Homo sapiens: one gene and its partners. The protein of the gene in region 2 purifies or fractionates together with the protein of the main gene of each other region. This does not show direct contact. Each region holds a gene or a part of one and is shown on either strand. Other genes may lie near its edges.

What was found.
Region 1: the proteins of LACC1 (region 2) and H3-7 purify together in Homo sapiens (affinity purification with mass spectrometry; 3 studies listed by BioGRID and IntAct, with this or other methods). This does not show direct contact.
Region 3: the proteins of LACC1 (region 2) and BRMS1L purify together in Homo sapiens (affinity purification with mass spectrometry; 3 studies listed by BioGRID and IntAct, with this or other methods). This does not show direct contact.

What each region holds. Positions count from the first base shown.
Region 1 is NC_000001.11:143,904,992-143,908,226, forward strand, and holds H3-7 (histone H3-7), read right to left. Parts: upstream 987-3,235; 5' UTR 976-986; coding exon 565-975; 3' UTR 519-564; downstream 1-518. UniProt on the Homo sapiens protein: Core component of nucleosome. Nucleosomes wrap and compact DNA into chromatin, limiting DNA accessibility to the cellular machineries which require DNA as a template.
Region 2 is NC_000013.11:43,877,715-43,881,468, reverse strand, and holds the start of LACC1 (purine nucleoside phosphorylase LACC1), read right to left. Parts: upstream 1,566-3,754; 5' UTR 1,350-1,565; exon of another isoform or gene 1,217-1,349; intron 518-1,216; 5' UTR 484-517; coding exon 1-483. UniProt on the Homo sapiens protein: Purine nucleoside enzyme that catalyzes the phosphorolysis of adenosine, guanosine and inosine nucleosides, yielding D-ribose 1-phosphate and the respective free bases, adenine, guanine and hypoxanthine.
Region 3 is NC_000014.9:35,864,286-35,868,039, reverse strand, and holds part of BRMS1L (breast cancer metastasis-suppressor 1-like protein), read right to left. Parts: intron 3,106-3,754; coding exon 3,041-3,105; intron 2,319-3,040; coding exon 2,279-2,318; intron 156-2,278; coding exon of another isoform or gene 135-155; coding exon 8-134; intron 1-7. UniProt on the Homo sapiens protein: Involved in the histone deacetylase (HDAC1)-dependent transcriptional repression activity. When overexpressed in lung cancer cell line that lacks p53/TP53 expression, inhibits cell growth.

The DNA of each region.
Region 1 (3,235 bases), on a different chromosome or scaffold from region 2:
ATTTTTATTCTATACTTTGTGGAAATTTTTTTCTCTTCCTTGAAATACTACCTCACCCACACATTTTTAAAAATCGCCAGATATTTACTCCCGCCCGCTTAAATTACTATTCTGGCTTGGACACCGCCTGTAGTATGCAATGAGGAAGATGCTGAGCTTTAATTAAGCTTATAGTTCCTAAATAAACCAGGAAACGAGTTTATAATTTTTAAGGGACTCGCCCCACCCTTACACTCAGGATCTTCCACATCTAGAAACTCCCCATAGTCTCTTGCCCCCATGCAAAACTTTACCCACAGAATTGGGAGCCGGACCTCTAGCCTTAAACCAGCGTGAAAAGGCTCGGCCGGAACCACAAGGACCATGCCTCTGCGGCTTTCTCTACTGCCGGCCAACTCACGGCTGGGCTTTGGGTTCTGTAACGTCACCCACCACGAGTGCCCCTGGCCCCTGACCGCTGCGCAAGGCAGACGCACATCAGATGGAGAGCCGGTACAGCTGCTCTTGATGAAAACGGCAGTGGCTCTGAAAAGAGCCTTTAGATCGACCACTTAAAAATATACCTTAGGCCCGCTCCCCGCGGATGCGGCTGACCAACTGGATGTCCTTGGGCATGATGGTCACGCGCTTGGCATGGATGGCGCACAGGTTCGTGTCTTCGAACAGCCCCACCAGGTAGGCCTCTCTGGCCTCCTGCAGCGCCATCACGGCCGAGCTCTGGAAGCGCAGGTCCGTCTTAAACTCCTGCGCGATCTCGCGTACCAGCCGCTGGAAGGGCAGCTTGCGGATCAGCAGCTCCGTAGACTTCTGATAGCGCCGGATCTCCCGCAGAGCCACGGTGCCGGGCCGGTAGCGGTGCGGCTTCTTCACCCCGCCCGTGGCCGGCGCGCTCTTGCGGGCCGCTTTGGTAGCCAGCTGCTTCCTCGGGGCCTTGCCGCCGGTCGACTTGCGGGCAGTCTGCTTAGTACGGGCCATGCTGTCTCATTGATACGAGAGGGTCTAGGCAGTCGTATTTATAGACATAGCCTCCTCTTGATTGGGCCTGAAAAGGAAATTTTCAAACTTGTGATCTCATTGGTTAAAATTCAGTCCTCTTTACTGGGGCGGAAGATTGTTCTGCTAATCTTTCTTCCCTTATTATTTCCCCCTTTCCTGATTTTTTTCTGTAATTTTATCGATCACGGATTGCTTTTGAAGACTTTCCTTTAAATTAGTCTAACTTTTGTAAAAGCAATGTATAAAGTGTTTTGCATCCCATTTTAACAGAGATTTTTTTTTTTCCCCGAATTCAAGCATGCCCTTCTATGAGCTATCAGCCTGTTTCAGGTTACCTGTTACTGAAGCTCTTCTACCATAGCTAACATTTATTTCATGTCTAGCATTTTGCTCAGCAAGTTAGATGCATTGTATACCATGAATGACCGAAGCTTAGCAAAAAAATATGTAATTGAAGGAATGAAAAAATTGATCTTATTTACTTGACCTTGGAACCCAGCCAAAGCCATTTCATGTGGGTAGTGTGCTGACCTATATTGACCTGATATTAGAGCCTCTGCCTTCCTTTAGTCTTTTCTCCCTGCGATGTGGTTCCTTCTTCCTCACCCTCACATCAATGGCCAATTAGGTCCTGCAGATGTTAAGCTTCTAAATCAAAGAAGGACAACACCAGAAATTCATTTCTCCTTTACAATGTAGAATAGTTTGTAAATTAGTGCTAATTAGCCAGATTACAAGTTAAAGTTTCAAAGCAAATTATTCATCAATTGCTGACTTGCTAACATTTTATTCAATAAAGTATTTTATAATGCTTAAAAGTTTAATATTTTTTTCTGTTCTCTATGAAGAGAGTAAAGATGCTTTGCTTTTTCAATTTCATGTGCTTTGAAGTATGTATTGTTCAGAACAGTAAATATAGTGGTTATGTAGAAGCAACTGATACTTAAAAGTTGTAGTAGTTAATATAAAACTTTTAATCATATGCTTATTTTACTAAAAAAATCATTACAAACTATAAAAACTCAAACCTGAGAAAAGCAGGCCCGAAACGCTTAAAACTTACTTTGATGGTGTCATTATGAACTATCTTCCTACTGAAGTCAAAGTAAAGTAAAAGTGATTTCAAGGGGACTTCCTGAACACTAAACACAAAGTAGAAATCTGTGAGCTTAATTAATATCTTCAAGAGTCTCTCATGGGCAGAAGCATCCTCCTCTCGAGAGATCTAAAATGTACAAAAGTGTAACTGATGTGAACAAATGTTATCCCTCTCTGTGGTAGTTTTGTAATAATGCCTTACAGACAGCAGGCACTACTCAGTGTTTAAAGTTCTTCTACATACACTTTATCATTTAATCCCTACTCTGTGAAATAGATCTTACTCTTCTCACTTTACAGATAAGAAAACTGAGTCTCAGAGAAATTATGGCTTGTCCTGGGTAAGTAACAAAGCCTGTGTAATATTCTAAAGCAAAAGAATGAAACGGTAATGATGAAACTTTCTATTTCATTAGGCTTAGAGGATACCTTTTTTTTTTTTCATTTGAGATGGAGTCTCACTCTGTCACCCAGGCTGGAGTGCAGTGGTAGGATCTCTGCTCACTGCAGCCTCCGCCTCCTGTGTTCAAGCAATTCTCCTGTCTCAGCCTCCTGAGCAGCTGGGACTATAGGCGCAAGCCACCACCCCCAGCTAATTTATTTATTTATTTGTATTTTTAGTAGAGACAGGTTTTCACCATATTGGTCAGGCTGGTCTCGAACTCCTGACCTCAGGTGATCCACCCTCCTCGGCCTCCCAAAGTGCTTGGGTTACAGGCATGAGCCCCACACACCCAGCCAACACAGTTTAAAGCACAAAAGCGTTTTCCCATCATGCAATCACATCATCTAGTATTTCTCAAACATCTACACCCAACTATTCCCATTAGAAGGGAAAACTACCCCATGGAATCTGGATGATAGCCCAAAGCAGCCCACCCAAGCATCACTTTTCTTTGCAATATACTTTCTCTATGATGTATGCAGTCTTGACCATAATGTAGGATGTGTTCATTTAAATAAGAAAATGGCATTCAATCAGACTTTAATGGCTATAGGTATCATTTCTCAGAATAAAACAATCAGATGTATAGTTGCCTTAAAAGTCATCTTTAATAACAGAATTCAGATCAATTGTTAGTTCAATTTCACCTAGTCCCCACATTGGACACTAGAGTGACATTTCTGTGAAAGGTCTCAA
Region 2 (3,754 bases):
CTGAATTCCTCTTAGTTCTTGAGCTGTGATTACGTTTATTTCAATGGACTGTTTAAAAAGCCCTCCCCTAAAAGTCACTTGCAAATCTTCAAATTCAAAATTGTAAACATCAGTGAAGAGTTGATCAATAAAAGCTTTCATTAATGTCTTCCTGTGCCTGGGTACAATTACCTTAATGCTGCTCAGATTTTTTTCATCAATTTTCTGTTTAATGGTATACAAAGTGGCAGCCATGCTGGGACAGCTAACAATCTCAAATTCTTCCAAGAGAGCTGATAATCCATTGCTTGTTTCTATTTCACAATTATCTTGTTCTCCATCCCTTTCATAGCTGATGTTACTGCAACACATTATACAGAGAAACTTGGCCTTGGCAGCATGGTGGTATTGGACAGCATTCAAAGTCTTCAGTAATGTCTGATGGCAGTTTTTTTGAGAGTTCAATTTCAAACCAAAAAGATCAATCAAAACAGCTTCTGCCATCCTTGAAAGAATACTTTTATGCCAAATAAATCACCTGCAAATAAAAATTAGTGTAAGAATATAAGATTATATAAATCTTATAGTTACAACAGAAATTTGTGGTAGATTAAAAACGAAGTAATTACACTGATTTTAAAATGTAACTAAAATAGTAAATCTAGGCCCCTCCCAGAAAAGCCAGTCTACTCTGTCACAACAGAACCATGACAGTGAAAGCAAAGCCATCTTTTAATTCGTTTTGTGAAAATGCTGGTACATCTTTCCAGCAGCACGACAGTTCCTCTGTTTTGTTTACACAGAACTTTTGAGTAAGGAATTACTTGTGGAGTTTAGACAAAGTCCTGTTTTTAAATTGCAGAGTGTCAACCTGTGTGATATATCATTAGTCCTGACATGATTGTCATATTAGGTCTCATCCTTTCATATGCGGGGGCTTAAGTTTACGAAGCTAAATGGAGCTGCACGCGAAATTCGCGTTTTAAGATGATAAAAGCTGAGATGGCTAATAGAGTTCCCTTCAGGATTTGCGCAGTACTCCACACTTAGCAATGACCACAAAAGCTATAGTGATTTGGATGAGACAGGCTTCCTCTCAACTTTCTTAATTCATTCTCCCCGTGCAGCTTTGCTCACCTCCAGCCCAGCCCTCCCACCCCAACCTGCGGGGCTCCGGTGACCCCCTTTGGTGACGCCCTTTGCCCCAAGAAGGTTTTCTCCTGCCGCTTCCCCTAACCTTTGCTCCCCATCTCTCGGGGCTCCCTCTGAGGTTCATTTAGCCAGTTTTGAGTGGGTGACCGTCCCCCCTTCCCTGTTCATTGTGAATTTCCGCCCAACGTGTGTCGCCGCCAGGTCCCTGTTCCTCCTACCCGCCTCGGCTCACGGGGCGCAGGCTGTGGCTCTGCACCTGCCCGGGCACCTCCACCGGCGGCTCACAGCCCATTCGGGACTTCCTGTCGGACAACGCACACCAGAGGCGATTCGGTCCTCGCCTTCCCGCTCTTCACCTTCGGTTGCACACCGGTCTACGGCGACCTCTGTGACAATTTGCCGCCCCGTCCCTCGTCCTGAGCCTCAACGAAATTGGGCAGCCGCGAGCGGGTCAGCTGGAGTCGTAAGCTCGGCCCAGCGCGACGACACCCGCCCCGCCTCACCTCGCCCACCTCGCCCACCTCGCCCCGCCTCGCCTCGCCCCGCCTCGCCCCGCCTCACCTCGCCCCCCTCGCCCACCTCGCCCCGCCTCACCTCACCTACCTCGCCGCGGCCGCACAGATTCCCCGCCTGATACCGTCCCAGGATCCCAGGGGAAACCTGACGGCCAGGTTCCCTCGTGCCAGCTGCCGGGAGGCGGGAGGGAGGTAGGCCAGGGCCGCCTGGCGTGCTTGGTGCGAACGCGGCGGGCCCAGCGCGAGAGCTGGGGAATCCCGGGATGAGCCAAGCGCCGCGAGCCCGCTGCTGCCTCAGCAGTTCCGGGTCTGGGCGGTCCGCGGAGTCGGCATCCCGCAGCCCCGGCGGCGTTAGAGGAACAGGAACCAGAGCCGCGCGAGGGCTCTCGCCCGGGAGCCAGGCGGGTTAGCGGGCAGGAGTGGGCAGGCCGAGTCCGGAAAGGGTCGCGAGGAGGCAGCTAGGGGCCCCTTGAGGAGGGATAGGGCGGCGGAACGACGGGCCCTGGGAGCGGGCGCAGGGCGGCAGGAGCTGCAGGTCTCCAGAGGGCACGGGGCGGGGAACTAGGGGCCCGGTTAGAAAGCCGGGCGGCGGGAACGGCGGGCACCGTGAGGGGGCGGCGGGAATGGTGGGTCGCGTGAGGCCGGGCTGCTGGAGCGACCTCGGGACTAAACCGCAGTCTCCCTTCTGCTAATGGAAGCCGTTTCCCAAGCGAGCTGAAGTCCGCGTTTCCGGTCTCTGAGGGACGCCTCGCTGACCCAGCAGTGTGGTCAGGACGCTGGGTTTCCTCACCGCAGCCCAGGGCCAGTCCCTTGTCATGCTAGCTCTTGGCAGCTTTTCCCATGCAGGGCTCAAGTCAGGGGCCCCCTCGAGATGTTTTAGTGTTTTTTTGTTGTTCATTTGTTTCCAGAAACAAGCTGTTGTCTCTCCTCCAATGTCTTTGTGCTGATTCTTGCTGACCAACACTCTTCCGAGCGCCTTCACTTGTGTTGACAACACGGATGTCCTCTATGGCCTTTTAAAATATGTGCCACTAGCAGGACTTAAGTAAAAGGCGCTCATCCCTAAAATCATGATAAAGGTGCAGTTTAGCATCCCTGATCTGTCCTCCAAGAATATAACGTTCATTTATTTGAAAATAGCAGTTAGGACATGGAAGGCCAGTGTATGGTAAAGGGAAAAAATATCCGACCTTCCAAGAGTAAGAGAAATGGTGCTTCCTGGGGAACTGGTTATGATGGAAGGAGAGGTCCCTTTTATCTTCATTGTTGCTCATTTGGTAGGCGCTAAAGAACCTTTGTCTCATAATCTCAGATAGCTGGGAATTTGGAAGAGCCCTCTGGGGTAGGCATGTTCTTGTGCTTGACTAGAGACTGGGAGCACTAACCCAGAATGGAAACCCACCCTTCAATAACCCTAGCACCAGTTATGTCAAAATTCATGTTTTCTTTGGTCATTTGTTAAAGAGCCCCGAGCGGTAGATGGTACACCCAATCAGAAGGTGCACTCTGCCCTGAGTTTGTTTATGTTAAATATCATTAGATTGGTGCAAAGGTAATTGCGGTTTTTGCCATTGACAAAGACCACAATTACTTTTGCACCAGCTTAATACCTCAAGCAAAACAGAGGTCTTTTAGTTACAAAGGTTTTAAACATTTATCTCTGTTTTTACAATGGTGGGATTCGTATTCTTTCATGCAAAAGTAGTGGCAGTAAAAAAAAAATGAAAAAGAAAATATTTCAAAAGAATGAAGTTGTCAGGGAAGAGAGTTTGTTATATTGTATTTGCATACCATTTCCTTTCACCATCTGGTCCTAGTGTCATGTCCTAACACTTCCTCATCCCATTTTCACTCTATCCTACTCCAGTGGTTCTCAGTCTTGGCTGCAAATCAGAACTGCAAGTGCAACTGAAAAAAAAAATAATTAATGTAGAGACTCTATCCCAAATATACATTGAATCAGAATCTCTAGGAGTTAGGCCTGAGCATGTTTTGCTTTGCTTTTTTGTTTTGTTTTAACCTCTATGTATGAGTTAGATGCATAATTAAGTTTGAAAAAATAAAAACACCCTATTCCCAAGCCACTCAAATAAAAGCTGTTCTTTGGA
Region 3 (3,754 bases), on a different chromosome or scaffold from region 2:
TTTTTACCTTGTAGGACATTCATCTTTTTTATCAATACATATTGTTTGTCCACGTATATACCATTCACCATCATAATATAGTCTTCCCTCTTCAGATCTAGCACTGTGCAGATGTTTTTCCAGTTTCACAGGTGCTAAAGGGATCAGTTCAAAAACTGTTATATTAATAAAACACTGTCAGAAGAACAAAGGGTCAGAACATTAACAATTAACATCAATCCATGCATATGTAAAAAAGGCCTAAAAATATTTCTTAAATAACAAACCTAAAATGTAATAAAAAGATTTATTCCTTACATTCTTTTACATAATCACTAAGTTTTTAATATAACTACTAAACAAAGCTAAACAATGAACAATAAATCATCAATTGACTAATTAAGTACCAGAAGGGGAAGCAGGTATGTTATCAATTACTAGTGTGAATTTTAAGTAGTATTTAAAATATCAATTGCCATATTTCAATTGAAAATTATACTTTTTATTTTTTCCCCTGCGGGCATCTGATATACCGAAAGAAGCAGAGTTTAATACATGTTCCAAGCATTCCCCAGGCTTTTAATTCTAAAAAGGAAATGTCCTAAGTACAACTTCTATTTTTAAATTCCAGAAATCATCTGGCATTAGTCAGATAACTCATACAGGAAAAAAAAATCTTTTTTATGGAAACACAGTGTCAAAAGCATACCATGAAGTCATTCAAATGTCAGCTCCTGAGAGGTCTTCCCTAACTACTCTACCCACTCCTCAGCTAATTGTTATATCAACTGCACAGTTCTTTTAGAGTAATTATTATAATCTGTAACTATCTTCTTAACTGTTTATCTACATATATATGATTCCACCTCCCCTAAAGAGGCTCCAGGAGATCCATATTTCTTTTACCATTGTATTCTCAGGGCCTAAAATACCATCGGGTATATTCATTCATTCATTCATTCATTCATTCAACAAATGTTGTCTGAACACTTCCTATACACAAGGAAGTATGCTGGGGAAAAAACTGTGACCAAAAGAGATATGGTTCTAGCCTTTGTGGAGCTTACAATCCAGTCAGGAGATAGACAAAATTAAAAAGTACAAATTGAGTGAAGTGCTATGAGTAAAACTAATAGGATACAATGCTGAAGATAAGAGTGGGAGGGAGACACACTCAACTATGATAATGAGATTCTCAAAAGGAATCTATTACCCAAAAATGTTAAGAACCACTGCTCTACAGGTCTAGGCAGCTGCTCTGGCAGTTAATTCCCCAGGGCAAATACTGCTGCAATTTCCTCACAAAATAAAAAGTTTAAAGGAATCATGGGGTTAAAAATAAAATGCAATTTTTTTTTTCTTAGAGATGGAATCCTGCTCTGTTGCCCAGTGTAGTGGTGTGATCATGGCTCACTGGAGCCTCGACCTCCAGGGCTCAGGTGATCCTCCCACCTCAGCCTCCCAAGAGGCTGAGACTACAAGTACACACCGCCAAGCCTGGCTAATTTTTGTATTTTTTTGTAGAGATGGGGTCTTGCCATCTTGCCCAGGCAGATCTCAAACTCCTGGGCTCAAGTGATCCTCCTGCCTTAGCGTCCCAAATTGCTGGGATCATGCTAGGCATGAGCCACCATGCCCAGCCTAAACAGAAATTGGTCTCTTATCGATTACTTAAGCTGTTTAAATGTGACTAGAAATTCCTTTCCTAAGTATTTCAAATATGTTTTTCTTTTTAGTCTAGCTTCATTGTCCTTAGAAGGATTAGGAAATCTCACCTATAGTGAAAGAAGGCAGAAACAGAGAAACTTATCCTAAACACCATCACATTTTGGCAGTGATTTTAGACTTCCAAAAAAAAAATCAAGGAAGTGTAACTTGATATGAATTTTACTAAGGCATATCAGCATTCTGATCTCTCTCCTCAGAAAATGCACATGCAGAATTTTGCACATAATTTCAGAGGATTCACAGAATCTCTGAAGCCAATCCACAAATTCCAAATACCTCCCCTATAGAATGACAGAGCCCATAAAAAACACTGCATAAATACTTTTTTGAGTTACTGATCCATTATTAGCAATAAGAATGTAGCTGAACACTGAAATAATTATACCACATTCAGAAATTTTGAAACTTTTACGTGAAGCAATGACTCCAGAAGAATTCCTCATAATTTCAGGCACGGTGTTCACTGATGAAATAAAACCACTGATTCAAGAGTTCTTTAGTACGTAGATAACAACCCTGATTCAACAAGTCTCCAAAGAGAATATTTCCCAACTCAGACTAAATGACTTACGTTCCGTTTTCACTCTGTGTGGCCCCAATGTAGCCATTGCCTTAATTAAAAAAAAAAAAAAAGAGGAAGAAAGAAGTCTGAGTTCAGACTGAAAATATATTTTGGTATCTATTTAATATATACAATATTACCGATTAACTCCATAACAAAGACAGTAAAGTATAACCATTAGCTGCTCTAACAAATTTTTAATGTCTAAGACCATAAAGAATATGAGGGATAACAATTTCTCCTAGAGGTGTTTTCAATACCTGAAATAATCTCTAATTCTCAACTAAGAAATTTACAAAAATGAAAAAATGTAATATGGAAAACAAGCCTCCACTTTCAGGCAAGAAAAGAAAAGCCTATGATTCTTGAATGTTTAATGATAGGATGCAAGACACATAAGGGTTCAAATGTTCTTTTGTTCAACAAATATTTATCAAGTGTTTTCTATAAGCCAGGACCAGCCAAAGGACTAGGCACAGATGGTGATGTTATTATTTTTGGGCAGACTAAATAAATGTTTTTTGGACTTTTCCATAAATTATTAGTTACATTATTATAGAAAAAATACAATCAAACTGCTGACATGTCTCTAACTCTTAAAATATCCTTGTAGTTCACTGCTATCTGTAATAGTATTAAATTGCCTTAGAAAAATGTTGCAAAAGCAAAGCATATTTACAATAATATTTTGATGTACTAACAAAAAAAACATAGAATCTTAAAAAGTAGACTATAAAAACATACTTGTGTTCCACTGCTCATTAATCATACCTTCCTAATTGTTGTCCAGTCTTCAAGAATATCAAGATCTTGTAGCATATAAACTATATATGGACGTTGAATAGTCAAGGTCAATTTAGCTGTAAGAATATCACACTTTGAATTATATTTCCAAAGTACTACATTTCAGAAAATGGAACGATGATTTATGAGCATAATGCTTTGGCATCCTAAATTCTGACTTCAAATTATTCTTCAAACCACTTAGTACCAGCATAAATACAGTCTAGTACTTCTGATGTCATAACTACATGCCCTTAATTCCATGATATCATTGATTGTAATATACATCACTAACACAATCACTGGTTTTTAAGGTGGAGGGGAAAAGATGGGGGTAGAGGGATGGTACCATAGAGAATGCCGAAACTGAATATACGTATTAATTTACACTCCAATTTTGGAAACATTTAAAAATGTTTTTAAAAAGTATACGAGGCTAGGCACAGTGGCTCATGCCTGCAATCCTAGCACTTTGGGAGGCCAATGCAGGCTTAAGCCCAGGAGTTCAAGACCAGCCTGGGCAACACGGCAAAACCCCATCTCTACAAAAAATACAAAAATTAGCCAGGCGAGTGGCACGTGCCTGTAGTCCCAGCTACTTGGGAGGCTAAGGTGGGAGGATCACCTGAGCCCGAGAGGTTGAGGCTAAGGTGAGCCATGATTGTGCCACTGCACTCCAGCCTAGGTGGCACAGTGAGACCC